Linked DNA regions of Homo sapiens. The protein of the gene in region 7 interacts with the protein of the main gene of each other region in a biochemical or structural test. Each region holds a gene or a part of one and is shown on either strand. Other genes may lie near its edges. The genes, in order: RAPGEF6, PDZRN3, MAGI2, HTRA1, TJP2, PDZK1 and KIF17.

What was found.
Region 1: the proteins of KIF17 (region 7) and RAPGEF6 interact in a test that uses a peptide from one of them, tested with the Homo sapiens proteins (one large-scale study listed by IntAct).
Region 2: the proteins of KIF17 (region 7) and PDZRN3 interact in a test that uses a peptide from one of them, tested with the Homo sapiens proteins (one large-scale study listed by IntAct).
Region 3: the proteins of KIF17 (region 7) and MAGI2 interact in a test that uses a peptide from one of them, tested with the Homo sapiens proteins (one large-scale study listed by IntAct).
Region 4: the proteins of KIF17 (region 7) and HTRA1 interact in a test that uses a peptide from one of them, tested with the Homo sapiens proteins (one large-scale study listed by IntAct).
Region 5: the proteins of KIF17 (region 7) and TJP2 interact in a test that uses a peptide from one of them, tested with the Homo sapiens proteins (one large-scale study listed by IntAct).
Region 6: the proteins of KIF17 (region 7) and PDZK1 interact in a test that uses a peptide from one of them, tested with the Homo sapiens proteins (one large-scale study listed by IntAct).

The regions. Positions count from the first base shown.
Region 1 is NC_000005.10:131,432,730-131,436,229, reverse strand, and holds part of RAPGEF6 (rap guanine nucleotide exchange factor 6), read left to right. Parts: coding exon of another isoform or gene 1-279; exon of another isoform or gene 280-469; intron 470-2,571; coding exon 2,572-2,800; intron 2,801-3,500. UniProt on the Homo sapiens protein: Guanine nucleotide exchange factor (GEF) for Rap1A, Rap2A and M-Ras GTPases. Does not interact with cAMP.
Region 2 is NC_000003.12:73,397,942-73,401,441, reverse strand, and holds part of PDZRN3 (E3 ubiquitin-protein ligase PDZRN3), read left to right. Parts: intron 1-432; coding exon 433-520; intron 521-3,500. UniProt on the Homo sapiens protein: E3 ubiquitin-protein ligase. Plays an important role in regulating the surface level of MUSK on myotubes. Mediates the ubiquitination of MUSK, promoting its endocytosis and lysosomal degradation. Might contribute to terminal myogenic differentiation.
Region 3 is NC_000007.14:78,124,168-78,127,667, reverse strand, and holds part of MAGI2 (membrane-associated guanylate kinase, WW and PDZ domain-containing protein 2), read left to right. Parts: intron 1-251; coding exon 252-471; intron 472-1,830; coding exon 1,831-1,974; intron 1,975-3,500. UniProt on the Homo sapiens protein: Seems to act as a scaffold molecule at synaptic junctions by assembling neurotransmitter receptors and cell adhesion proteins. Plays a role in nerve growth factor (NGF)-induced recruitment of RAPGEF2 to late endosomes and neurite outgrowth.
Region 4 is NC_000010.11:122,485,553-122,489,052, forward strand, and holds part of HTRA1 (serine protease HTRA1 precursor), read left to right. Parts: intron 1-3,349; coding exon 3,350-3,449; intron 3,450-3,500. UniProt on the Homo sapiens protein: Serine protease with a variety of targets, including extracellular matrix proteins such as fibronectin. HTRA1-generated fibronectin fragments further induce synovial cells to up-regulate MMP1 and MMP3 production.
Region 5 is NC_000009.12:69,236,777-69,240,276, forward strand, and holds part of TJP2 (tight junction protein 2), read left to right. Parts: intron 1-172; coding exon 173-360; intron 361-1,101; coding exon 1,102-1,197; intron 1,198-1,933; coding exon 1,934-2,013; intron 2,014-3,160; coding exon 3,161-3,371; intron 3,372-3,500. UniProt on the Homo sapiens protein: Plays a role in tight junctions and adherens junctions. Acts as a positive regulator of RANKL-induced osteoclast differentiation, potentially via mediating downstream transcriptional activity.
Region 6 is NC_000001.11:145,697,369-145,700,868, forward strand, and holds part of PDZK1 (Na(+)/H(+) exchange regulatory cofactor NHE-RF3), read right to left. Parts: intron 1-3,500. UniProt on the Homo sapiens protein: A scaffold protein that connects plasma membrane proteins and regulatory components, regulating their surface expression in epithelial cells apical domains.
Region 7 is NC_000001.11:20,669,508-20,673,007, reverse strand, and holds part of KIF17 (kinesin-like protein KIF17), read left to right. Parts: intron 1-811; coding exon 812-1,070; intron 1,071-2,516; coding exon of another isoform or gene 2,517-2,519; coding exon 2,520-2,587; intron 2,588-3,500. UniProt on the Homo sapiens protein: Dendrite-specific motor protein which, in association with the Apba1-containing complex (LIN-10-LIN-2-LIN-7 complex), transports vesicles containing N-methyl-D-aspartate (NMDA) receptor subunit NR2B along microtubules.

The DNA.
Region 1 (3,500 bases), on a different chromosome or scaffold from region 7:
GACAGGACAAGTTGTGAGAACACAACCAGAAAAAGAATGACATCCCCGTTTAGAAGACTTAGGGAAAGAATGCTTTCAAGGGAGAGACTAGTCAACAGCCAAAAAGAGGACACAGATCACAATCAAGCTACAGAAAGCTGTGAGAAAGTGAAGGATGTTGGAAGCAACATCAAAGATGAGAAAGGGAGTGCCATCTTCAATTCAAATAGCCAAGGCAACAGTAACACTTTAAACTGCTTCTATACGCGATTCAAGTCTAAAAGGAGGAAGACACTCTGATGAAGTTCCTTATTTAATTTTAGTGTTAAGTTTGTTTTCAGTTATTAATGTATACATGGCTTAAATTAAACCATTTGTCAAAGCTTAGGCAGACAACTTAGTAAAATACTATTTATAAACACTTGAAAATGCCTCATTTGTACATAAGTTATTTTACTGATGTATTGAGTTAGTAAATTTTATACTCTTGTTTTCTGTAGTTGACTTTATTTCCTACTGTTAGCTGGATCTGTGAGTGAAATATGTAGAGGAGGCTTTTTTATCTTCTACTTTTTACGTATCTTTGATTGGGGGAGAAGGGACTAGTCTAACATAGCAATATCAGAATCATCTGGGAAACTTGTTAAAAAATGCAATTACTGTGTCCCACCCCAGACTTCATAAACTTGAATTGCCAGAAATGGGATCTGGAATGTTTATTTTAATTGGCTTGCCAGGTGGTTCTTAGTATTATTATATTTGAGAAATACTGATCAAATAGACATAAGAATGAAATTATTTTTTAAACAATGAAGCAAGATTATTGTGTAGAGCAATGACTTTTTCTTTTCAAGAAGAAGGTTTTTATTTATTTTTAATTTACTTATTACATCCACTTTCTTGGTCCTCTTAAAAATTGACTAATCAGCTCATGGACATTGACAAATAGCAGTGATCCCAAGTTCAGAGATGTATGATAGACGTCAGAAGACTGGCTTGTCTTGGCTTACCCTGTTCCTGTCCACGTAGGCCAAATATAAATCACACATTTTCTAGGCCTTTTTCTCTTTGAAATAGTTAACGAAACGACTTAATAAGATTACTGTGCAACAAATTATTCCTTAAATGACTTGAGTTATATGTGAATAACTCCAAGATCCATAAACAGAGAAAGACTTGGAACTAAGGATGTTGTCATCCTCTTTCTGCATGAAGATGAGGCCCTGAGAATTCCAGTAACATACCCAAAGCCTGTAATTCTTCCTAATGACATTTCTAGGTATTGGTCCAAAGGTCACATATCTACTAAACCCTACTTTCCTCTGTGAGCAAGAAGATATTTTTTACTTCTTTGAGACCCGTCCCTTGTTGGGATTACTAGGGCATTTTCTTTTTCTTTTATTTCTAAACAAAAATTTGGTTTCTTCCAGTTATCAAAATAGATTATTATGTACATTAGCCATTCTGTTGCAGATTTGTTTTTGGGTCCTTCACCTCAGTGCGTCCCTAGAATACAGAAGAACATCTCTCTAGTTGTCTGCTGTGCAGTAAGTCACAGAACAACATAGAACATGTAGATGCTGTTTTTTTCTATAACACATTATTAAACATGTATCCACTCAGCTGTTTAATATTCTGCAAGGTTGGTGAAGAAAAAGGAAACTAAGTATGACACTAAGTTTAAACCTAAAACAATTTAAAAAACTGAAACAGGCTGGGCATGGTGGCTCATACCTGTAATCCCAGCAATTTGGTAGGCTGAGGCGGGAGGATCGCTTGAGGCCAGGAGTTGAAGACCAGCCTCGGCAACATAATGAGACCTCATTTCTGCAAAAAGTTTAAAAATAACTGGGTGTGGTGGTGCAGACCGTAGTCCCAGCTACTTGGGGCTGAGGCAAGAGGACCACTTGAGCCCAGGAGTTCGAAGCTGCAGTGAGCTATGATCGTGCCATTGCACTATAGCCTGGCAACAGAGCAGGACCCTGTGTCTAAAAAATAAAAATAATCTAAAACAGTGACTCTCAACTCAAGACAAGACTTCTTAGGTGGGATATGCAGAATATATGGGGTAAGTATATATAGTTTGATAAAGCAAAAATGTAGTTCTTTCCCTTGAGTCCTGGACTCCCACCCCTACCCTTACTTCAAGATGGTATTTGGGATTCAGATCAGGTCAAGAAATATTCATATTAATCAAAGGAAGGAGCGTTGGGTTAAAAAGAAGTTGAGAAACCCTAAAGACATGTACTTATTAATATTTGTAATCTTCTTATTTTATTAAATGATTATAGCTGTGGGAGAGCCTGAGAAAGATATACCTTTAAACTAGTTTTCTGAGTAACACTGGACTTTGACTGTCTTTTTCTTGAATGTGTAGTTGTATTGGTGTGGTGTGGATAGTAGGCAAATGGTTATGTAGGGGAATGTGTGGAGAAAATTGGCACCATTATATCTACATAGATGGAAACTAAAATTGCTTCTACTTTGTCTTCTGTTATTTTTGTGGGGTTTTTTTTTTTCATCCTTTCCCCTACTACCCCCACCATATGTTCCCTTTTTTTGTAGTTTGATCAGTGCTCTTTTCTTGTTCAGGTTACACACTTATTCCATCAGCTAAATCTGACAACTTGTCTGACTCCAGCCATAGTGAGATTTCTTCACGGTCCAGCATCGTGAGCAATTGTTCTGTTGACTCCATGTCTGCAGCTCTACAGGATGAACGGTGTTCCTCTCAGGCCCTGGCAGTCCCTGAATCCACTGGGGCATTGGAAAAGACAGAGCACGCTTCAGGGATAGGAGATCATAGTCAACATGGCCCTGGGTAAGCATCATTGTCTGTGTTCATAACACAAAACCCAAGCCAAGTGGCCACTGCAAGGAGTGCTCCCCACCTTGACCTTGGACCTCCCATGGGGTAATTGCAGAGTTATCCATAAAAGAATATGTGGGCCAAGCACATATTCTCTATTCTGAATATGTAAATAAGCACTATGTTGAAAGATGTATGGGTGTTCATTTTTAAAGTGTTACTAAATTCAAGTAACTTTTTATCATTATGTATCTTTCCAGTCAGAACTCAAAGTGCATCTGCTACTTATATAGGGGAGATAATTTTTGAAATTCTGGCTATAGGTTAATCAAAAAGGTTGTGTTTTGGAAAGTGCCTCGAGTGCTGTGCACATTGTAGACAGGTTGGGAGAGTAGGACTAGCCCTTGATCTCTGTCCTCTGAAAGTGTAATTTGGGGAGTAAGAATAATCACCTAGCAAAGGTTAATTAAAAAAAAAAATCAACTCTAAATTTCTATTTAGAATCAAGCAACGTGGAAATCTTTGAGAAAGTTTATTCTAACTGATAAATATTGTGAAATCTGGTCTACTTTAATATGAAAAATTTAAGATAAATTATTACCACATTTATAAAGATTTCTAAACTAGGATCTCTACACCAGAGGTCAGCAAATGTTTTCTATAAAAGTTACATAGTAAACATTTTAGACTTCACAGGCCATAAGGCCTCTGT
Region 2 (3,500 bases), on a different chromosome or scaffold from region 7:
GATCTCAGAGGCCAGCACATATCTTAGACTGTTGCCTGGGCTCGAGCCTAGTTCTCTGCAGAGATAAAATCTAACAATGAAGCAATAAGCAGTAAAATATTGTCCTGTTTCCTGCGTAGAGATGGAGTTAGAAATCAGTCACGCTGAATCACGTGACTGGCAGGCTCCGGGATGGGCTCTGCAAACAACAAAGCCCATCAGGCTTGCACTTTGCATCTTAAGTCCTTCAGGAGGAAATGTACTAAAGGCAAATGGTAAAATTAGGATGATGGAGGTCCTGACCGTGCTGAGAGCCCCATCCAGAGGGAAGTGAGTCATGAAAGGGCCCACACCCTGGGAATTGCTACTGTGCCACTGGCCTGACAATGGGTGTAAGAAAAACAGATACTGACAACGGAAGAAGGGCTGTAAAGATGTTGCATCTCTTTTCAGGCATCCCTCAGCCCATGAATACTACGATCCAAATGACTACATTGGAGACATCCATCAGGAGATGGACAGGGAGGAGCTGGAGCTGGAGGTATGAAGAACATCCTTGTCTCATTTTAGGAGTCATTATTAAGAACACAGAATGCCTAATAAGTTCTCTATAAGCATAAATTAGTTTACGGATGCCGATGGAAAGTAACAAAAGCAGAACCACTTTTACTGATGCCCTTTGAAAGGCACAACTGAGATTCTTCTTCCTTCCTTGGAAACAGAGCTTAATAATCAAGTCCCAAAAGCAGAAATGTAAACTTTTTTTAATTTGAATCACTTAAAAGTTAGGACAGTAAATCCTGTTGTCAACCTTTGAATCCACATAATCCATACATTCTTGTAACTAACATAAGCCTCCTCACCTTCCTCCCTTTTATGTCATCACCACTCTTTACTCAAAGGCAGATGGCTCAAGAGTAGGTGGATAAATTACTTGAGTGAATGCTAGCCCGCCCTAACAAAAGGGTTTGTTCACTGCTTCACTTGCTTCAAGTTTGCTAACATTGATACAGAAGAAATTAAACAAGTCTGCAACTCTTCTTAAGTGTTATTTGAGGCCACACAGGAATAAAGATTCAAGATGCTACATAATGTCAAATAGGTCTCTGTTAAGGTTTAAAATATTTAGAGGACACCAGGTTGCCAACAGAGTTCTACTTCCCATTTTCCTTTTATTAAGGGTGATAGAAAATACAGAAAACACTAACTTGTATAATATATTTATATTTTGGGGAAAACACTTTTATATTTCAATGGGGTTTCAAAAAATATAACAGCATTTTTGAAAGCTGATTTTATGGAATAAGGTAAAAAGACACCTGATGTTGACAGGTAAGCCCTTGGGTACCATCAAAAGGTCACCCAGGAAAAATCGAACATTTTATCCAATTTCATGGCTAACTGTTGTGTAATCTATGCTGTCCTACCAATACTTCTGAAGTTGAATTGTTCAGTGGCAGTAGGTTCTGTGCAAGGACAGAAGCAGTCAAATAGTAGAAAACAGCTATGTTCCTCAACTTAAAGTTACCAAGAGTTCTCATTCCAAGACAGAAGTTAAAAATCAATAATTGTGTGCAAACGATGACTTCACTGATGGTTAGCCAGATACAGTCAAATCAAAGGACTTGTTGCCAGTGGCATGACTGACTCTGTGCCAGTTTTCAGAAATTTAAAATTTTCCCTAAATGCACCTGGTCTAAACAGCAATGGCCAGTATTCTCACTATAAAAACTTGACTGTTTCTGCTTGCTGTCAGCCACTTACCAAAGCGCTTGCCATTTAACAATTGTTCCAGAAAATGTAGTTTTGTCATTTTCAAAAATCAGGATTCTGCCTCTTATTTAGTGTCCTATCACCCCAGCTTCAGGGCTGTTTGGTGAAGCAGCCGTGACTCCTTCAGGACACTTGTTCCTTAATTTGTTATGTATGTTCCTTCCAAAGGGGGTTCATAATGAAATACATTTGGGAAATGCCAGACTGAAGACAACGAAACAGATTTCTTGGAGGACTTCTGAGAATCTTGACTATCTACCTAGAATCCCCTGGGGGAGTGGGCAGAATTTCCCCCACCTCTCTGGCCAAGTACCTGTTTATATTTCCTCAGTCTACAGTTCTCTGGAACACTGTTGGAGAAACACTGCTCTCCAAACAGAGGGCTATTTCGTAATCTTTATGGGACGACACTGCTTTTTGATGATGTAATTGTGGCAAAGTAGAGTTCTTTTAAAAAGCTGTAAAGTGTTTCAGAAGCTAGAGTTATGAAGTAGTAGAGACTTTGTAGTCTTTGGTATTTAGTTAAACTTGACTTTGTAGCAGTGGGTTCTTTAGTTCTTTTTTTAGTTTCTAATACCTTTGAGAATCTGATGGAACCTACAGCCCCCCGCTCTGGAAAAATGCTCCTGTCTGTGAGAGCTTGCATATGGTTTCAGGAGATTCACTGAGCCCCCACAGTATCTGCCCAATTTGGGCCATTCTGCCTTACAGTTTTTCCTTATACCTGACTATCACCAGAACTCTTACGTGCTTTCTATTTCTCTTTAATTCGACTCAACTTATTTAAACTACGGTAATTTTATTTTAAAGGAAACACTATACCACTGCGTCAAGCAGAAAGTCAGCATCCATTGCCTTAAATAGAAAATCCCATACAATTAAATACAGTGGACACAAGCCAGTGTTATTTATTAAATCCTGGTGCTCAATAAGGGTGCCTGCTGAGGGTTGGGAGCCTGGGGCCACTACATCCTGCCTTTTCTCTAAGGAGATTAGCTAGTATTAAAGAAGTGTTAAGACTAGCCCAGACTGAGTCTTTCTCCTCAAAGCATGAAGCACCTGAGAGCATCCTGCTTTCAGCAGGAGGGAGCCACTCAGAAACTGTTCCCTAGAACCCTGTTGTTCAAAGTGTGGTAGGAGGACCAGCAGCCTGGCTGGTCAAAGTAGAGTTCTCACCTAGGAGATGTGGGAACTACAGAAACTTGGCCCCCTAGATCTTCAGAATCAGAATCTGCACTTTAACAAGGTTCCTAGGTACCTCGGTGCCCATTAAAGCCAGAGGACCCCTGACCTACAGGCCACAGACCCAGATAAAGCAGCCCAAGCTATCATTTCCTCTTGTTCTCTTGAGTCACACCAGCGAGGCTTTTGTGGTGCCTTTCATTCACTGCAGTGTCGAGATGTGCCGCCAAGTCACGAATATTGTCCACACTGTCCCTGCAGTGTAACATTATCAGGGCCTAGGAACGACTGAGCCCCTCGTAGGCATGTGACACTGTGTTCCTAAGACTGCTTCTCTCTTTTCATGAATAAAAGCAGACACAACGCAGGTGTTTAGAAAACTAGTCTGGTATTAATATTTTAAGCTAGACCTTGGATGCCATCAGACTTTATATTCGTGTTTATTTTCAATTCTGTTCATTTTATTGTCTCTTACATTAAATATACTGTTTGGCCCTAGAAATGCAAAATCACGAAGTCACCACTCTGCCTGCCCTTAAGGAGCTCACAAGCCATTAGGACCATTA
Region 3 (3,500 bases), on a different chromosome or scaffold from region 7:
AAGGTTCTGGTTGAACCATCATTTTTACCTTGACTTCGTAAGGAGCCAAATAAAAAGCATACAATATGGCATTTGTCAGAGATTTTTAAATAATATTTAACCTTCTCATAATCCTGAGCATCCAACAGGACCACCGAGAGGAGTGGTTTGTGTGAGCTGTCATGGCTGGCCCACCTCTGGAGGCCGTGTGATCACTCTAGCCTCTTTAGAATGCAGAGTTACAAAAGCAAATCCCATTTCCATTGATTTAGTTACAGGTCGGAAGTGAAAGCAAGGCAAGATGTGAAACCAGACATCCGACAGCCTCCATTCACAGACTACAGGCAGCCCCCGCTGGATTACAGGCAACCCCCAGGAGGGGACTACCAGCAGCCCCCACCCTTGGACTACAGGCAGCCTCCCCTACTGGACTACAGGCAGCACTCCCCCGACACCAGGCAGTACCCTCTGTCGGACTACAGACAACCCCAGGTACCTCCTCCCGGAGAGCAGGGTGGGTCCTGACCAAGGCTTCCAGAGAACTGCAAGGAATGAAATAGGAGAGGCAGAGGAAAGAGTACCTGTCTGGGATGGAGAGCTGAAGTTCTATTCCTAGTTCTGGTAACATCGGGGTAACACCTGCATCCTCAGAAACATGCTGGATAAATAAATCTATTTCAGAATAAAGCAGGACAATAAATAAATATGGATAAATACATAAATAAATAGCGGATGAGTAGTAATGGAATAAACTAATCCCTGCTAATACTAGCTAACTCCTTGTACGTTTCCTTGTCAAAGTTTTAAAAATGCTCTAACCTGGGACCTCTGAGAGTGCTGCTAATGCAGAAAATTTTATAGATGCTAGCAGTGGAGGTATTTTAGGTCCATATTTTTTTACGTGGCCCCCTACCTGCCACTCTGTGATAAAGGGCCAAGCCCCTGTGCGTAAGAATAAGACCAGGCTTGGCTTCACAATCCAGAGTGTAGCGCCTGCCACAGCCAACAACTCTCTGTCTACACAACCAGTGTCACTGTTGTTATGATTATTTGTTGATGTGCTTCATGTCAACTTCCTTAACTTCTCTGAGATTCAGTTTCCTAAAGGGAGAGTCTTCCTTACAGGCCAGGATGAGGATTCAACATTTATGAAAAGAGTCTAGACCAGAGTTTGGTATCTAGAAAATATTTCCTACTTCGTAACTACATACCAAGATATAAATTAAGTACAATCTCAACTCTATCAGATTACATTGTGTTTTATTATGAATTGAAGATCAACTTTATGCCCAAAGATTTTAAGAATAGTGAAGATCAGAGAATCTTGGACATACTGCATTTTAGGTAAAAGAGAAATTGATTTTGTACATTCCAACTTGATATTCAATAGTCTGTGCAACTGAGAGATCTAATTATCAGATCCCACTAAATTTTACTTTTCTAATCAGCAAACTCTGTAATTTGTACACACACACACACACACACACACACACACCTGACATTTATTTATGGTGCTCAATAGCAGTGAATGAGAGAAGTAAAAGGAGAGATGATGTCACTCAGGCCTATCTGTAATCATTCCACGTTTGCCAAGTAAACTGATGAATACCAAAGTAAACAAGCTACACAGTAATTCTTTGATGACCAAGTAAACTGTGCTCTGGCCTGCTCAAACCTTTGGAATTTTGTCTTTCATTTGGGTAGTTTATGAAGCCAGATTACGACTTCTCCCAACATCATGTCATTTGGAATACATTAACTAAGAGACAGAAGGAGAACACAGAGACTAGCCACAGAAGCTTCTCTGATAACTAAATAATTATTTATTCCATTTTCTCCCCAACCCCAAAGGATTTTGATTATTTCACTGTGGACATGGAGAAAGGAGCCAAAGGATTTGGATTCAGCATTCGTGGAGGAAGGGAATACAAAATGGATTTGTATGTGTTGAGACTGGCAGAAGATGGACCAGCAATAAGGAATGGGAGGATGAGGGTAAGAACAGTCTCTTTTTATAGAATTGCTTAATTCTGAAAGAAAAACCGACTGTGGTATTGGAAGAGTACTGAAGCATGCTGTCAAGCGGGGTTGCTGTAGGTTTGCCCTCTTTCTAGTTGATGATGACCCAGTTTCTTAAAAGTCTGGCCACTTGCTATTTTATAATATCTCTCATTCTCATTTTTCTGCTTATGACCTTCTAATTGATTAACCTCAGTAAAGTACTATTTTTCTAAAGAGCAAATGAAAGAAATCTAAGAAATAGCTTGAAAAGGAAACATTATTTCTCCATAATTCTTTCTATGGTTTGATGATTCTGTTTTGATTAAGGTTGAATCTTTTGAAATTTATTTTTAGTTTTGTGCTTTTTCCCCCATATTGATTAATCACATGGTTTTGCGGGACTTTTAGGAAATTTTTCCTTTGTGTTGACTGGTCTTTTGGTTTGATACTGGGCAGACAGAAGCATTAGGAGTAAAAGGGATTTGGCTTCTTGGATACAGGTTGTTCTTAAAAATGACAGCAGGGGCCGGGCGTGGTGGCTCACACCGGTAATCCTAGCACTTTGGGAGGCTGAGGCGGGAGGATCACAAGGTCAAGAGATGGAGAACAACCTGGCTAACACTGTGAAACCCCATCTCTACTAAAAATACAAAAAAATTAGCCAGGCGTGGTGGCGGGCGCCTGTAGTCCTAGCTACTCAGGAGGCTGAGGCAGGAGAATCGCTTGAGCCCAGGGAGGCGGAGGTTGCAGTGAGCCAAGATCGTGCCACTGCACTCCAGCCTGGGCAACAGAGTGAGAATCTGTCTCAAGAAAAAAAAAAAAAAAAGACAGCAGCTAGAAATTTTCCAATTAAAGTTAAGAGTAGATTTTTTCATTTAATAATTACTTTGAGGCATCTGATTGATGGGTAACTGATTCTTCATTTAAGGGTATAAAACAAAGCTTGTTAACAATATAAAATATTAGTCTCTTTACTCTCTCTGTGTGTTTGTGTGTGTGTGTGTGTCGGTGTATGAATAAAATCTAGAATTTATTCTTGCCCTCCCTCCTGCCTCTTTAAGTTAATAAAGAAAAGCTGTGGCTTTGGGGTTCCGGAACCTCAGGTTCTTGTGCAGAGCCTCACCAACCAATTTTCCCTGATGGCTGAATCTGTTATTTCTACCACCAAGTCTGCATTTCTATGATACGCATTTCCAAGTCAGAGGATTATCCACAGTCCAAAAGCAGAAGGCATGCACATCATGTCTTTGTTTCTCCCCACTACCACAATCCTTTGACAGCTGGGAAGCATCCAAGTTGGAATTTAAACCCAGGCAGGGCTGACACCAGAGACTGGCAGCCCTCCCCGTGATCTAGCACCAGCCTCCTCTTACCCCGTCTAGCCCTGATTTGAAGATGGGCCTCCACATGGTTTCCTGGCTCTACAGCTTCCCTATAAGCCAGAAGGACACTTTCTTAACCTGCTATAAGGCCAGCTCACAAGCAGTTAAGTAAAACAAAATTAATCTTTCCAGTGCAGG
Region 4 (3,500 bases), on a different chromosome or scaffold from region 7:
GGCTGCTCAGTGGACTGAGGCTGGAACTGGGCCTTCCAGTGGCCAGGCCAGATCCTCCTTGATCTCCCTTGTTGCTTTCCTGGTGGGAAGACCCTGGAACCACTTTATGTGACTGTGTGAGAAGGGAACTGCCTCTCATTTTACCCAGCAAAATCCACCTTCAATCCATCTTCATTTTTGCCCCTGGTGTGGGCAAATTCTCCCATACCTAATTCAGGAAGCCAGAAAGAGGAAGTGAGTTAATGATCCTTAGTGGGAAGGCGCTGGTAATGGTCCTTCTTGTGAGAGTTTCTGAAACACCACGCTGTCTCTGTGTTCTGGCCTGGCTGGAGTTAAACCTCTTCTTGGCCTTTCCCCAGGAAGCTGGTCTGAGGAAGCCCAGATGCGTTTGTTTACAGCTGTCTGGTGACATTCGCCAGGCTCTGTTTTCAGAAGGAACATTTCCATTCCCTTATTTACACCTCCCATTGGAGTGCTCGGGGGGACACACCAATTATTTGCAACTACCTGGAAACCTAGGAGGGTAGCAGATCTGTAGGAGGCCAGTGTTGAAGTGAGAAGCTGTAGATCTGGTGACACTGTGGGCTTGGGAGGGCTTGCCCAGATCTGTTACTTATACTCTCTATTAAGAAACTTCAGTGTCCATGGAGAAGTTATTTAAAGTCTGCGAGCCTCAGTTTCCCCATATATAATATGGGAAGGATACCTGATTTTCCTATTCCACATGAAGGTAGAAAAAATTAAATTAAGGCAGCCAATGAAAGGGTTTTGAAAGCAAAAATAATAATATGATACTGTTCTGAATTTGTTAAATTATTCTTCCAAGTAGTTGCAGATCTTTTTCTGTACCTTAGAAAAAAACCATGCTATGTAAAAGGAGATGATTCCAATCTTTAAATAAAGCAACTCAGAGGTCAGGGGCTAGGACAGAAAACGGCCCTTTGTTCACAGAAGCGCTCTCACTTCCAAGAAAGCAAGCGTGGGAGAGGCAGGTGGTCCTCCCGATGTCCCTGTGCCCCATGGTGTCAAGCTGGGTTACTATGGCCCTTCGTGACCCAGTGCAGCAGGGATGTGGGAACCAGTGGGTGTGAAGCTGTGACGGGTCACAAGAGGGCTGGGACGTCTCACAGCTTTTACTTATAGCCTAGAGCCTGGGGAAGGGTTGCCACTCTAGTGATGAGAGAGGCGTGTGTGTGTGTGTGTGTATGCGTCTGTATGTATGTGTGCATTTGCATGTATATATGTGTGACTGTATGTATGTGCACATCTGTGAGTATATGAATGTGTGTGGAAGTGTGTATAGGTGTTTATGTGACAGTTTGTGTGTAAATGTGGGTGTATGTGTGGGTGTGTTTATGCATGTACATCTGTGGGTGTGTATGCATAGTGTGTATGTGTGAGTTTGTGTGTGTGTGTGCATTTGCATCTCTGTGTATATATGCATGTGTGTTAGGGGCAGGCACACAGGCCTGTTGGTAAATGAGACACAAAATACCTACAAAATACAAAATGTGAGACAGGAAATACAAGCCCCAGTTACTCATTTTTCAGTGCAACAGACATAAGATTACCATGTGAAATTGCTATGAAAGTTTCCGAAAGCTTCCTGTCAATTCGTAGTGAGCAGCTAGCAGAGGAGTGCGGGTCCCTGGAGCCTGCTTGTGCAACGCTGAGCTAGTCCAAGGGGGAAGAATGGGGTGCATGGCTCTCAGCTGCAGACCAGCCTGGAACCTCTCCAGCCTGCTTTAGCAGAGACTTGTTAAGAGGTAGCAGCAGGTGGCAAGATTAGGAGCCGGAGTAGTAGGCTAAGGCTGCACTTCCAGGGACACACTGCCTCTGCCACCACCCGTGCCACGAAAATGGGAGCCCAGGACCCTGAATCTCTAGCAGTCCGTTTCTGAATCAGTTACCTTGGGTATGTGCCTCTGGTTGATGGAAACTAACTTGTAGCCCTGCTGGGTGAGAGCCTCACATCGGGACATGTGACAGCTTTGTTGAAAGTAGCTTTGGAAACGCCCACCACGTGGGGCCACTCACTGTAATATAAACGGTCATGCATCACTGAGCAACAGGGATACGTTCTGAGAAATGCGTCGTTAGGCGATTTCATCACTGTGGGAATGTTACAGAGTGTGCCTACGCAAACCTAGATGGCAGAGCCCACTCCACACCTAGGCCAGATGGCAGAGCCTGTTGTTTCTAGGATGCACGCCCGTACAGTAGGTTACTGTACTGAATACTGTAGGCAGTTGTAACAATGGTGAGTATTTGTGTATTCAAACATAGAAAAGGTATAGTAAAAACAATGGTGTTATGGTCCGCGGCTGGCTGAAACGTTATGTGGTGCATGACTGTAGGTATAAAGCATTACAGTTGTTTGATTTTTCTCTTTTTCTCACCCACAGTCTTAAGGCACCTCTTATGCCTTTTGTCTGGGATGTCCCGGGCAGGGTTGGAACGTGTGGTTAAGGCATGGCGGAAACTGCTTTGGGGACAGACGATGGCCTCAGCTTGCCTTGGGGTGTCAGTGGGAAAGATAGGAGCTGCCCCTTTGCCTTCGTGTTTCTTCGTAATAATCTCAGATGTACCCGTCTGGTGGGCCTCTCCTAGAAAAAGCCCCGGTGCTCTTTGCTCCTGCGGTGTTTCTCAGGAGGGTTGTTGCTTCTTTGTAATGGTGGGGACTCAGGGAAGGGACGCAGGCAGAGGGTGATGCCACATCAAAAAGGGACCCTTGGCTGGGTGTGGTGGCTTACGCCTGTAATCCTAGCACTTTGGGAGGCCGAGGCAGGTGGATCACCTGAGGTCAGGAGTTCGAGACCAGCCTGGCCAACGTGGTGAAACCCGGTCCCTAGTAAAAATACAAAAATACAAAGGTGGTGGGTGCCTGTAATCCCAGTTACTCAGTAGGCTGAGGCAGAAGAATCGCTTGAACCGGAGAGGTGGAGGTTGTGATGAGCCAAGATTGCGCCATTGCACTCCAGCCTGGGTGACAGAGTGCGACTCCATCTAAAAATAAACTGAAAAAAAACAAAAAACAAACTTGGGCCATCAGCTTCTTGGAAAGGCTGGTGTGAGGTTGAAGCATTTGCTGGTGCCTCTGCTCAACGTTTTTGTGGTGAACCTGAGCAAAGAGGTTATCATTAGTGGATTTTACTGCCTTACCTGGGTGGGCACTCCCTTGGGAGGTGGATGGACATTTGCAGCTGAGCCCAGGTGGGGGAATTGCGCTCACTCCGCCTTCAGAATTCCAAAGGCTGGGCATGCATCTTGGCTTCCTCTAACCCATGTCTTTCTCTAGGTGGCCACAGCAGAGTGTCATTAAGTATCTATTCTTTGCTTTTGTTCTCAGGGCAGGAAGATCCCAACAGTTTGCGCCATAAATATAACTTTATCGCGGACGTGGTGGAGAAGATCGCCCCTGCCGTGGTTCATATCGAATTGTTTCGCAAGTAAAGAGAGCCTTCCTTTTTCCTATAACCTCCGAAGCTTTCACCGCCACT
Region 5 (3,500 bases), on a different chromosome or scaffold from region 7:
TGCTCCCATTTGGAAGTGAAGGTCCCCACATTTCCCACCCTCTGAAACTTCTTCATTGTCAAGCGGAATCTTCTCTGAGCTCAGAAGTAAAATTGACTGGATTTGATTAATGAAATGCATGTTAGCTGCGTTTTCTGGCTTTAGAGATTTACTTCCCGTGGTTTCTTCTCAGAGCTGAACAAATGGCCAGTGTTCAAAATGCCCAGAGAGACAACGCTGGGGACCGGGCAGATTTCTGGAGAATGCGTGGCCAGAGGTCTGGGGTGAAGAAGAACCTGAGGAAAAGTCGGGAAGACCTCACAGCTGTTGTGTCTGTCAGCACCAAGTTCCCAGCTTATGAGAGGGTTTTGCTGCGAGAAGGTGAGGAAGTCACATGGGGCCTGGAAATGAACTGACTGGGCTCTGAGCCTGTTCACCTTTATTTTCAGACTGTATGGTCAAGTTCTAACTTATGTATGTCAGTTATGCCAAAGGCAGTTTATAGAGTTGAAATCAAATTCTAACAAGGAGCATGATTTATAAAAAGCTGTTTCAGTTCCTAAATTGAGGCTTATTTCTGCAACTTAAAAAATGTTTTAATACCACTGTTCAAGAGTTTCGGTATATTGGCTGGGCACTGTACCTTATGCCTATAATCGTAGCACTTTGGGAGGCCAAGGTGGGAGGATCACTTGAGCTCAGAAGTTCAAGACTAGCCTGGGCAATATAGTAAGACCTCATCTCTGCAAAAAATAAAAAAAGTTTCCATATATTATCAATGGGAAAGTTTGTGTTTAAAAATGGTGAGGAGCTAGGCAGTGTAGTCCCAGCTACTCAGGAGGCTTGAGCCTAGGAGTTTGAGTTTAGTCTGGGCAACATAGTGAGATCTTGTCTCTTAAAAAAAAATCTAGGTTAGCATGTGGTTGAATGAAAAGAAAAAAATTGTTTTAAATGGTGAGGATAGTGAAGGCATATTCTTCAGAACAGAGCCAAGCTGAATTGGGGAGAAACCACAGTTTCTTTCGTTTAGTTATGTTATCAAAAGCCCATACAATACTTTTACTGCTTATCATAACAGCTAGGCAAGTGTGTATGCTTTAATGGCCTTTCTTGTCATTTCAGCTGGTTTCAAGAGACCTGTGGTCTTATTCGGCCCCATAGCTGATATAGCAATGGAAAAATTGGCTAATGAGTTACCTGACTGGTTTCAAACTGCTAGTAAGTCTGTCAGTGTTTTTTTTTCCCCCAAATTTTTATTTTGAAAAATTTCTAACAGAGGAGTTGGAAGAATCATGAACACCCACGTACCCTTCACCTGGAATCACCAGTTGCTGACATTTTGTCACGCATTTTCTCTCACCCACTGCCTGCACCATAGACACACATACACACACACATACACATACTCTTTGAAAAATTTCTGCAGAATCATTTATAACACTTTATCCCTGAATACTTGTGTGAATCTCCTAAGAACAAGGACTTTCTCCCACATAACTGCAATACCATTATCACAGCCAAGAAAGGTAACATTGATGTGGTGTGATTTTGTATATAGTCCATTTTCCACGTTTTCTTAATTGTCCTAGTTATGTGCTTCATAGCTTTTTTTTAAATTCAGAATACAACCAAGGACCATTCATGACATTTGATTTTTATGTCTTTTTGTGATTTTTATGTCTTTCCAGTCCCCTCTTTTTTCTAAATAACTTTGTTACACTGATATTTTGAAGAATCCAAGCTAGTTGTCTCCTAGAATGCTTCCTGTTGGACTGGCCTAACCGTTTCTTCATGATTAGATTTCCACTAAGCAGGTTATGTGGGTCCTTCCCACTGAATCTTGTTAGGAGACACTTAATGTCAGGTGTGCCATCATTGCTTGATGCTAGGTGGGAGTATTTGGTTGTCACTGTTTTCTAAACAATTATTTAGCTTCCTGTTTTTGCTTTTGCAGAAACGGAACCAAAAGATGCAGGATCTGAGAAATCCACTGGAGTGGTCCGGTTAAATACCGTGAGGCAAATTATTGAACAGGTGAGAAAATTCATCCACAGACCGTGTTTTCAGAAAGAATTAGATTATGGTTTGCTGCAGTCACTTTTAGGATAGTATCTGTACTTTTAATCATTAAATGTTAATAATAAAAAATTGGCCGGGCACAGTGGCTTACACCTGTAATCCCAACACTTTGAGAGGCTGAGGCGGGTGGATCACCTGAGGTCAGGAGTTCGAGACCAGCCTGGCCAACATGGTGAAACCCTGTCTCTACTAAAAATATAAAAAATTAGCCGGGCACAGTGGCAGGTACCTGTAGTCCCAGCCACTCAGGAGGCTGAGGCAGGAGAATCGCTTGAACTCAGGAGGCGGAGTTTGCAGTGAGCGGAGATTGCACCATTGCACTCCAGCCTGGGCGACGAGTGAAACTCCATCTCAAAAAAATATATATATAATGTAAATGCAAACCGTTTCACTGTGTGGAAACCAGTCACTGTTGGCAGTGAGCGGAGATTGCACCATTGCACTCCAGCCTGGGCGACAAGAGTGAAACTCCATCTCAAAAAAATATATATATAATGTAAATGCAAACCATTTCACTGTGTGGAAACCAGTCACTGTTACTGTTCTCTGGCAGTAACATACTGTTTTTTTTTCCAGAGTTCCCAGCATTATACCAAATAATGTGTTAATTCATTTTATCAGAAGTTCTAACACATTGGTAATATTGAAGTGGGCATTAGGTAGAAGGAAATGTGTTCTGCTTCTTGATTTAAATTTACAAGATAGGTGGCTCATGCCTGTAATCCCAGCACTTTGGGAGGCAGAGGCGGGCGGATCACCTGAAGTCAGGAGTTTGGGACCAGCCTGGCCAACATGGTGAAACCCTGTCTCTACTAAAAATACAAAAATTAGCTGGCCATGGTGGTGGCGGGCACCTGTAATCCCAGCTACTCAGGAGGCTGAGACAGGATAATTGCTTGAACCCGGGAGGCGGAGGTCGCAGTGAGCCAAGTTTGTGCCACTGCACTCCAGCCTGGGCAACAGAGCAAGAATCTATCCCAAATAAGTAAACAAACAAACAAACAAGATATATCTCATACAGCCTTTACTTATTAAAACAAAGTATTTGATGCTATATTACTTTATATATCCATTTCTCTAACTTTTCCCCTTTTGTAAACAGGATAAGCATGCACTACTGGATGTGACTCCGAAAGCTGTGGACCTGTTGAATTACACCCAGTGGTTCCCAATTGTGATTTTTTTCAACCCAGACTCCAGACAAGGTGTCAAAACCATGAGACAAAGGTTAAATCCAACGTCCAACAAAAGTTCTCGAAAGTTATTTGATCAAGCCAACAAGCTTAAAAAAACGTGTGCACACCTTTTTACAGGTAAGTGAAATGTAAATGTAGTCCCTTTGCTAAAAAATGAGAAATAAAGAATTGAAGAGTAGAAGAAATAATTAATTAATCTGAATGGAGAATTTGAAATTGTGTTCATGACTCCTTGAAAAATAGTTA
Region 6 (3,500 bases), about 130 Mb from region 7:
AGAGAAAAGAAAGAGGAAGCAAAAAGGAATAATCAGAAAACAAAATGCCAAAATTTTAGTGTCATCAAAACTAAAAGAAGAATTTTAAGATGGGATAGTTAACAATGCCAAATAATGCTAAGAGGTAGAGAGAATGAAAACAGAAAATGCCACTGACATTCAGAAAATGGAAGTCTGGGCCTGATAAAACACTAAGAAGCAAGTGGATACCAAGTAACAGAAGCAACGAATATTGATATTTTATTTTTTGAGACAGTCTCGCTCTGTCACCCAGGCTGGAGTGCAGTGGTGCGATCTCAGCTCACTGCAACCTCTGCCTCCCAGATTCAAGCAAGTCTCCTGCTCAGCCTCCTGAGTAGTTGGGATTTCAGGCACCCGCCACCATGCCCAGCTAATTTTTTTTTTTTTTTTTTTTTTTTTTTTTTTTTTTTAGTAGAGACAGGATTTCACCATGTTGGTCAGGCTGGTCTCAAACTCCTGACCTTGTGGTCCGCCCGCCTCAGCCTCCCAAAGTGCTGGGATTACAGGCATGAGCCACTGCACCCAGCCTGGATGTTTTTATTTTTAACATTAAGGAAACGATCAGCATGTTTCTGTATCAAGAGATGATATGGAGAACATGGAAACTGGGGTTAGCCTTGGTGAGAGGAAATACCTCTTCTCCAGGGGCAGAAGAGAAGTAGAAAAAAATATGATAAAGAAGAAAACAAGGTCACTTACCTCAGCCTCAATCTCTCCTACGAAGTAGCTGACAAAAATCAGGAACTTGGAGAATATGGAGCAAAAGTACCACAGAAAAATAATCTCTAGGGTCAAACAGGTAAATCAGCGAAGGTGGCCGAGAGGGGACGGAGGAAAAGCTGCTGCTTTTCATGAGAAGACAACTGCCTGAGGAAGAGGAGGCCAGCATGCCACCTTTCAATTTTCAAGAGACTCTGGAAATCTAGATTTACATAAAATGTCCCCATTTAAAAAAACTGACAGCTATTTCAAACTTAAAAGAAATTCTATGTAAACCAAAAGAGAATGGAGCCCCCGAGCTGGCGGTGAACTAAGACAGTGAACTAATGGCCACAGCATTAGCTCACTACAAAGAGTCAATGAATTGAATTAAAATGTCTAAGAAACAACTTAGGTTAAAATATATATATATAATAAACTTGCAGCAGCATGGGTTCCCATGGATTTTTCTTACAGTAATATACATCAAGAATAGAAAAGGAAAGTGGTAACTTTTACCCTAAGTTGGGGCTAACATATTTTTAAAACATAAGGGTAGGCCAGGCGCAGTGGCTCACACCTATAATCCCAGCACTTTGGGAGGCCGAGACGGGTGAATTACTTGAGGTCAGGAGTTCGAGACCAGCTTGGCCAACATGGTGAAACCTCATCTCTCCTAAAAACACAAAAAACATTAGCCAGGTGTGGTGGCAGGCACCTATAACCCCATATACTCCGGAGGCTGAGACAGGAGAATTGCTTGAACCCGGGAGGCGGGAGGCGGAGGCTGCAGTAAGCCAAGATTGCACCACTGCACTCCAGCCTGGGCGACAGAACGAGAGTCTGCCTCAAAAAATAAAAAATAAAGGCCAGGTACAGTGGTTCATGCCTGTAATCCCAGCACTTTTGGAGGCCGAGGCAGGCGGATCACCTGAGGTCAGGAGTTTGAGACCAGCGTGGCCAACTTGGCGAAACCCTGTCTCTACTAAAAATACAAAAATTAGCCAGGCTTGGTGGTGGGCATCTGTAATCCCAGCTACTCAGGAGTCTGAGGCAGGAGAATCACTTGAACCCAGGAGGCAAAGGTTGCAGTGAGCTGAGATCACGCCATTACACTCCAGCCTGGGCAACGAGTGAAACTCCATCTCAAATTTAAAAAAAAATAAAATAAATTTAAAAATTAGCTGGGCGTGGTTGTGCGTGCCTGTAATCCCAGCTACTCAGGAGGCTGAGGCACAGGAATCGCTTGAACCCGGGAGGTGGAGGTTGCAGTGAGCCAAGATTGTACCACTCACTCCAGCCTCAGTGACACAGCAAGACTCCATCTCAAACTAACAAGCCCATAAGAGTAGGATGTGAGGATTTCTAGATTTACAAGGGGCACAGAGCTGGAATGTCAGACTGTGGGGCCAACATGAATTGGCAGATAAGAGGAGCTAGGAGTTTGGGATTGGGAAGATGAAATGTTTCAGGGACTAGCTTAGCAGCATGAGTTGGGAAGAAAGAAGAAGGGACTGTGGAAGCAGTTTCAAAAGTTAGTGGGTTGACACAGGAAAAGTTATCTGAAAAGATCTTTAGAGCAGAATAGTTCCCCATGATGCAATTCTAAAGGAGCCAGATGTGTATACAAAAGGGAATCTGTATTTTTGTTTCCATCTTCCCCCAGGATCGATTCTGAGTAAGGTAGAGTAGAAAGAGCAAGGGTTTTAGAGCCAAACCTAGTTTTTAATCCTGGCTTCACCGCTTGTTAACTGTAAGAACATGGGTGAGTTCCTTAATTTTGAGCTGAAGATAGAATACCCCTAGAATAGGAAGCACATGTGGATGCCGTGAAGATGGCTCACAGTAGAGCATGCAAGGCCTCTCAGCACAGTTTCTGGAGCATAGAAGTCCACTCCATCCAAGTTACTCTTTCCTGTCCTCTGATGAAACGCCTGATGCAATGGGAATCCCATTTTCTGTGAGAATATTTGAAATTTTTCCTGATTTTCTTTTTGCAGAAGACAGGAAGAAATTACAGACTAAGAATGGGCAGGCACCTCAATGATCAGGCAAGGGATTCTCTATCTACTCAGTCCAGATCACTTCTGCGAAGCTAATTTTAGCTGCTGAAAAGTCAGGGCTGGAGATTTTGTTCCCCATGAAAGAAAGCTCAAATAATAAACTCTGGACTCAAAAGTATCCTGTAAGTCTAAAAGCCAGGGAATTACAAAATAGAACCAAATGCTGTGTATCAAGGAGGTAAAAGAGTCCAGGGAGCTTTAACAGAATTTCAAGACTAAGCTGGCCAGAGAGTTCCACCGCCTGGAGTGGATAAGCTCTAACAGAAGTGAACATAGGGACCCAAGGAACAGACAGCAGTGGAGAAGATGGAGTGAGTGAAGCATTACCTTAGCTATAGATACCTGGCCCAGAGAGGGACCTTCATAGCCAAGGAGTAGCTAGTGAATAGGCTCACTCACCAGACAGCATCACTGAAATGCCAAAAGATCAGAGAGAGGGCATGGGATAAACAGCATTCTGCTTGGAGGGAGAAAGACAGAAGGGGGCTGTCACCAGCGATGGCCAGATGCAATGAAATACCATCAGGAAAGAAACAGCCCAGGTACTGTCATCTCTGCTCATCTTCCAAGGTCTGGGACTTAGAAGTGGCAGGATTATTCCATAAATATAGTCATCTACACCTGAACCCACCATCACCTTATCTAATAGTAACTAGGAATCAATTATGCCGTCAGTATCACACCACGAAGACAACAGAGCCTCTCCCCACAAGGCAC
Region 7 (3,500 bases):
AGTGATCCGCCCGCTTCGGCCTTCCAAAGTGCTGGGATTACAGGTGTGAGCCACCACGCCCTGCCTCAAACATCCTTCTTTACTAATCAGACTGTACCTGCTCTTTGAGGAAACAGACTGTGCACCAGGTAGTCTTGGGGCTCAGGGAGAGGGTGGTTATGGCTGGGGCTGGCAGTCACCTGTGCTCAGGAGGGACCGGGGGACCGGTCTGGCAGACTTGAGCAGGAGACCAAAAGAATCTGGAACCCTTGATCAGATCAAGGTGGGTCTTACTCTTAGGTCCATTGTTTAGGTCCAGTGTTTGTCACACCGTCACACAGGGCTGTGGCAGTGGGAGAGTGAGGATTGTCAAGTCGGAGAGTTTGTGCCTGTTGTCCTCCTTAGAGATGTCACTTGTGCAATTCTCTGATATCCTTTAGAACGGTGGTGTTGGATGTGGGGACTTCTCAAAGGCTCCTGAATAAAATGTACAATGGGAGATAGTGACTGAGGGGCTGGCTGTTGGGATTGCTGATCAACTTTTCCCCTACATTTTGCAGGGCTGGGGGGACACATTAGGTGCTCATTTAAATGCTGGGTGGAGAGACAGCAGGGTGATTGGATAGACGGAAGGATCAGTGGGTGTGAGAGGAGGTGGATGGATGGATGGAGGGAAGGATGGCTGGATGGATGGTGGGGATGAGAATGGATGGCTGATCAGGCCAATGAACAGACGATGCGTGGCTGCTGGCAGGACAGTGAGTGGACAGGGTGGTTAGATGGAAGGGGAGGTATCTTTCCCTGCTCACTGCTTGTCATCCTTTGCTTTCAGCTTCGGGCAGCAGAGGTGGAGATCAAAGATCTGCAGTCCGAGTTTCAGCTGGAGAAGATCGATTACTTGGCCACCATCCGCCGGCAGGAGCGTGACTCCATGCTCTTGCAGCAGCTCCTGGAGCAGGTGCAGCCCCTGATTCGCAGGGACTGTAACTACAGCAACCTGGAGAAGATTCTGCGTGAGTCCTGCTGGGACGAAGATAACGGCTTCTGGAAGATCCCACATCCCGTCATCACAAAAACCAGCCTCCCAGTAGGTCAGGAGCTTGGCTGGCCCTTGCCCTCCCCTCCCTCCTTCACGGCTTACCATCCTGCAGACTGGCAGGGAGTGTGGGCCTCTCCTTGCAGGCTGTGGGTGTAGAAGACACGTGACCCTGGGTACCTGATGCGTCAGGACTCTGAGAAAGTGGTGTGTTCTGGAGGCAGACAGATGTGGGTTGGAATTCTGGCAGCACCGTTCCCTGTGTGCCCTTTTTGGGACTCGGTGTCTTCATCTGTGAAATGGGGATGAATAACAGCACCTTTCTTAAAGTTGCTGTAAGGTTTGAAATGTGTTAATAGGCCAGGTATGGTGGCTCACGCCTGTAATCCCAGCACTTTGGGAGGCTAAGGCTGGCAGATTGCTTGAGTCCAGGAGTTCGAGACCAGCCTGGCCAACATGGTGAAACCCTGTCTCTAAAAAAAAAAAATAGAAAAATTAGCCAGGCATGGCAGCATGTACCTGTAGTCCCAGCTACTATGGGGGCTGAGGCGAGAGGATCGCTTGAGCCTGGGAAGTCAAGGCTGCAGTGAGCCAAGATCGTGCCACTGCACTCCAGCCTGGGTAACAAAGTGCGACCCTGTCTCAAAACAAACCCCGAAAAAACAAAAACCAGAAATGTGTTAATACACAGAAAACCCTTACAGCAGTGCCTGGCACATAGTGATGCTCGCTGCATGTCATTGTTATCCTAATCAGCATTGTCACTGGTTCATCCTTACGACAGCCCTGAGAAGACAGGTTTTCTACCCATTTCACATAGGAGGACACAATCTCAGAGGGTCCAAAGTCACAGTCACAGCAGTGAGTGGGAGGACCATGGATCAAAACCCACAGTTCAGAGTTTCAGGCCTGGTTCCACTTCCGCTCTTGCTGCTGACCTCCCGTATGGCCTTCCGAAGATCACTGTCCCTCTCTGGGCTTCTTTACAAAGAAGGGGTTGGATCAGATGACCTTGAAAGCCTCCTCACCTCTGATGAGTCTCAGAGTAAAGCCAGACATGCTGTGGCTCTTTCTCCAGCCGTGGACCTGACTCTGCCCATTTGGGGAGCCCGCAGTGCCCCCCAGGAGTCCTCCCTCTTGCTCAGCGTGTTCATCCAGGTCCAACATCTCTGATGTTTATTGACACCATCCCTGCTGAGACCCCAGCCCGCCTCCATTTCCCACATGCTCTGGGATGCAGCAGCCTTCCTGTCTGTCCCCACCCTCGCCTGCTGTCTTGCCTGGAAGCCCCTTGGCTGCTGTCTTGCCTGCAAGCAGATGAGGGTCTTCTCTGGTGCCTGAGCCCCTCCTGCTGTCTGTTTCTTAAAATTATCCCTTGGCTTGGGCTGGGAAGTGTCCTCCCCTGTTTAAGCCTGAGCCAGGCCTGACCCCCACCTCCACCTGTGCCCTCCTCTAGGCCTTGCACCAGGCAGCAGTGACTTCAGCTTTTGTTTTCTCATAGCAGTTTCAACTGGGCCACAGAACAAACCAGCCCGCAAAACCTCTGCAGCAGACAATGGCGAGCCGAACATGGTGAGGACCGCGGGAGAGGGAGTGGGGTGTCGGGGGCTGGGAGGGCTTTGCCCCCAGTGCTGTGGGTCAGTGTTACTGTGGAGAGCTGGTTTTCCACTTTCCTCCCGCCTAAGGATTAAAGAAGGGGCCAAGGCTGGATCCTTTTCATGCCCCTCCATTGGCACCTAGACCCTCAACCCCCTCTGGCCCTCATTCAAAGGTACTCACAGTCATAAATACCAAGGGAAAGTAGATGGTTCGGTGGCCCATCTTGCCGGTGAAGGACAGAGACTTCAGCCTCAAACTCAGAGGACAAGCAGCACATTCTGGTTTCCTGCTGGTAATCCTCAGACCAAGAGGGTCCTCACAGGGTTCATGAAGCAGTAATTGGGATTCCTAAGTCACTTTATTTTCCCGTCTCTCATATTCTGTCTTTTTTTTTTTTTTTCTTTTTCTAAGCTCAGTGGCAAGACCTATCTCCTATATTTTATAGTGCAACAGAAATGCATGTTCTTAAAGCATGGGTGGTGGTGGTTGTTTTTTTTTTTTTTTTTTTTTTTTTTTTTTTTTTTTTTTTGAGATGGAGTCTCGCTCTGTCACCAGGCCGGAGTGCAGTGGTGCGATCTTGGCTCACTGCAACCTCTGCCTCCCAGGTTCAAGCAATTCTCCTGCCTTGGCCTCAGCTGGGACTACAGGCGCGCACCACCATGCCCAGCTAATTTTTGTATTTTTAGTAGAGACAGAGTTTCACCGGGTTGGCCAGGATGGTCTCGATCTCTTGACCTTGTGATCCTCCTGCCTCAGCCTCCCAGAGTGCTGGGATTTCAGGCATGAGCCACCACGCCCGGCCTCTATTTTATTTTATTTTATTTTATTTATTATTATTATTATTATTATTATTATTTCGAGACAGAGTCTCGCTCTGTCGCCCATG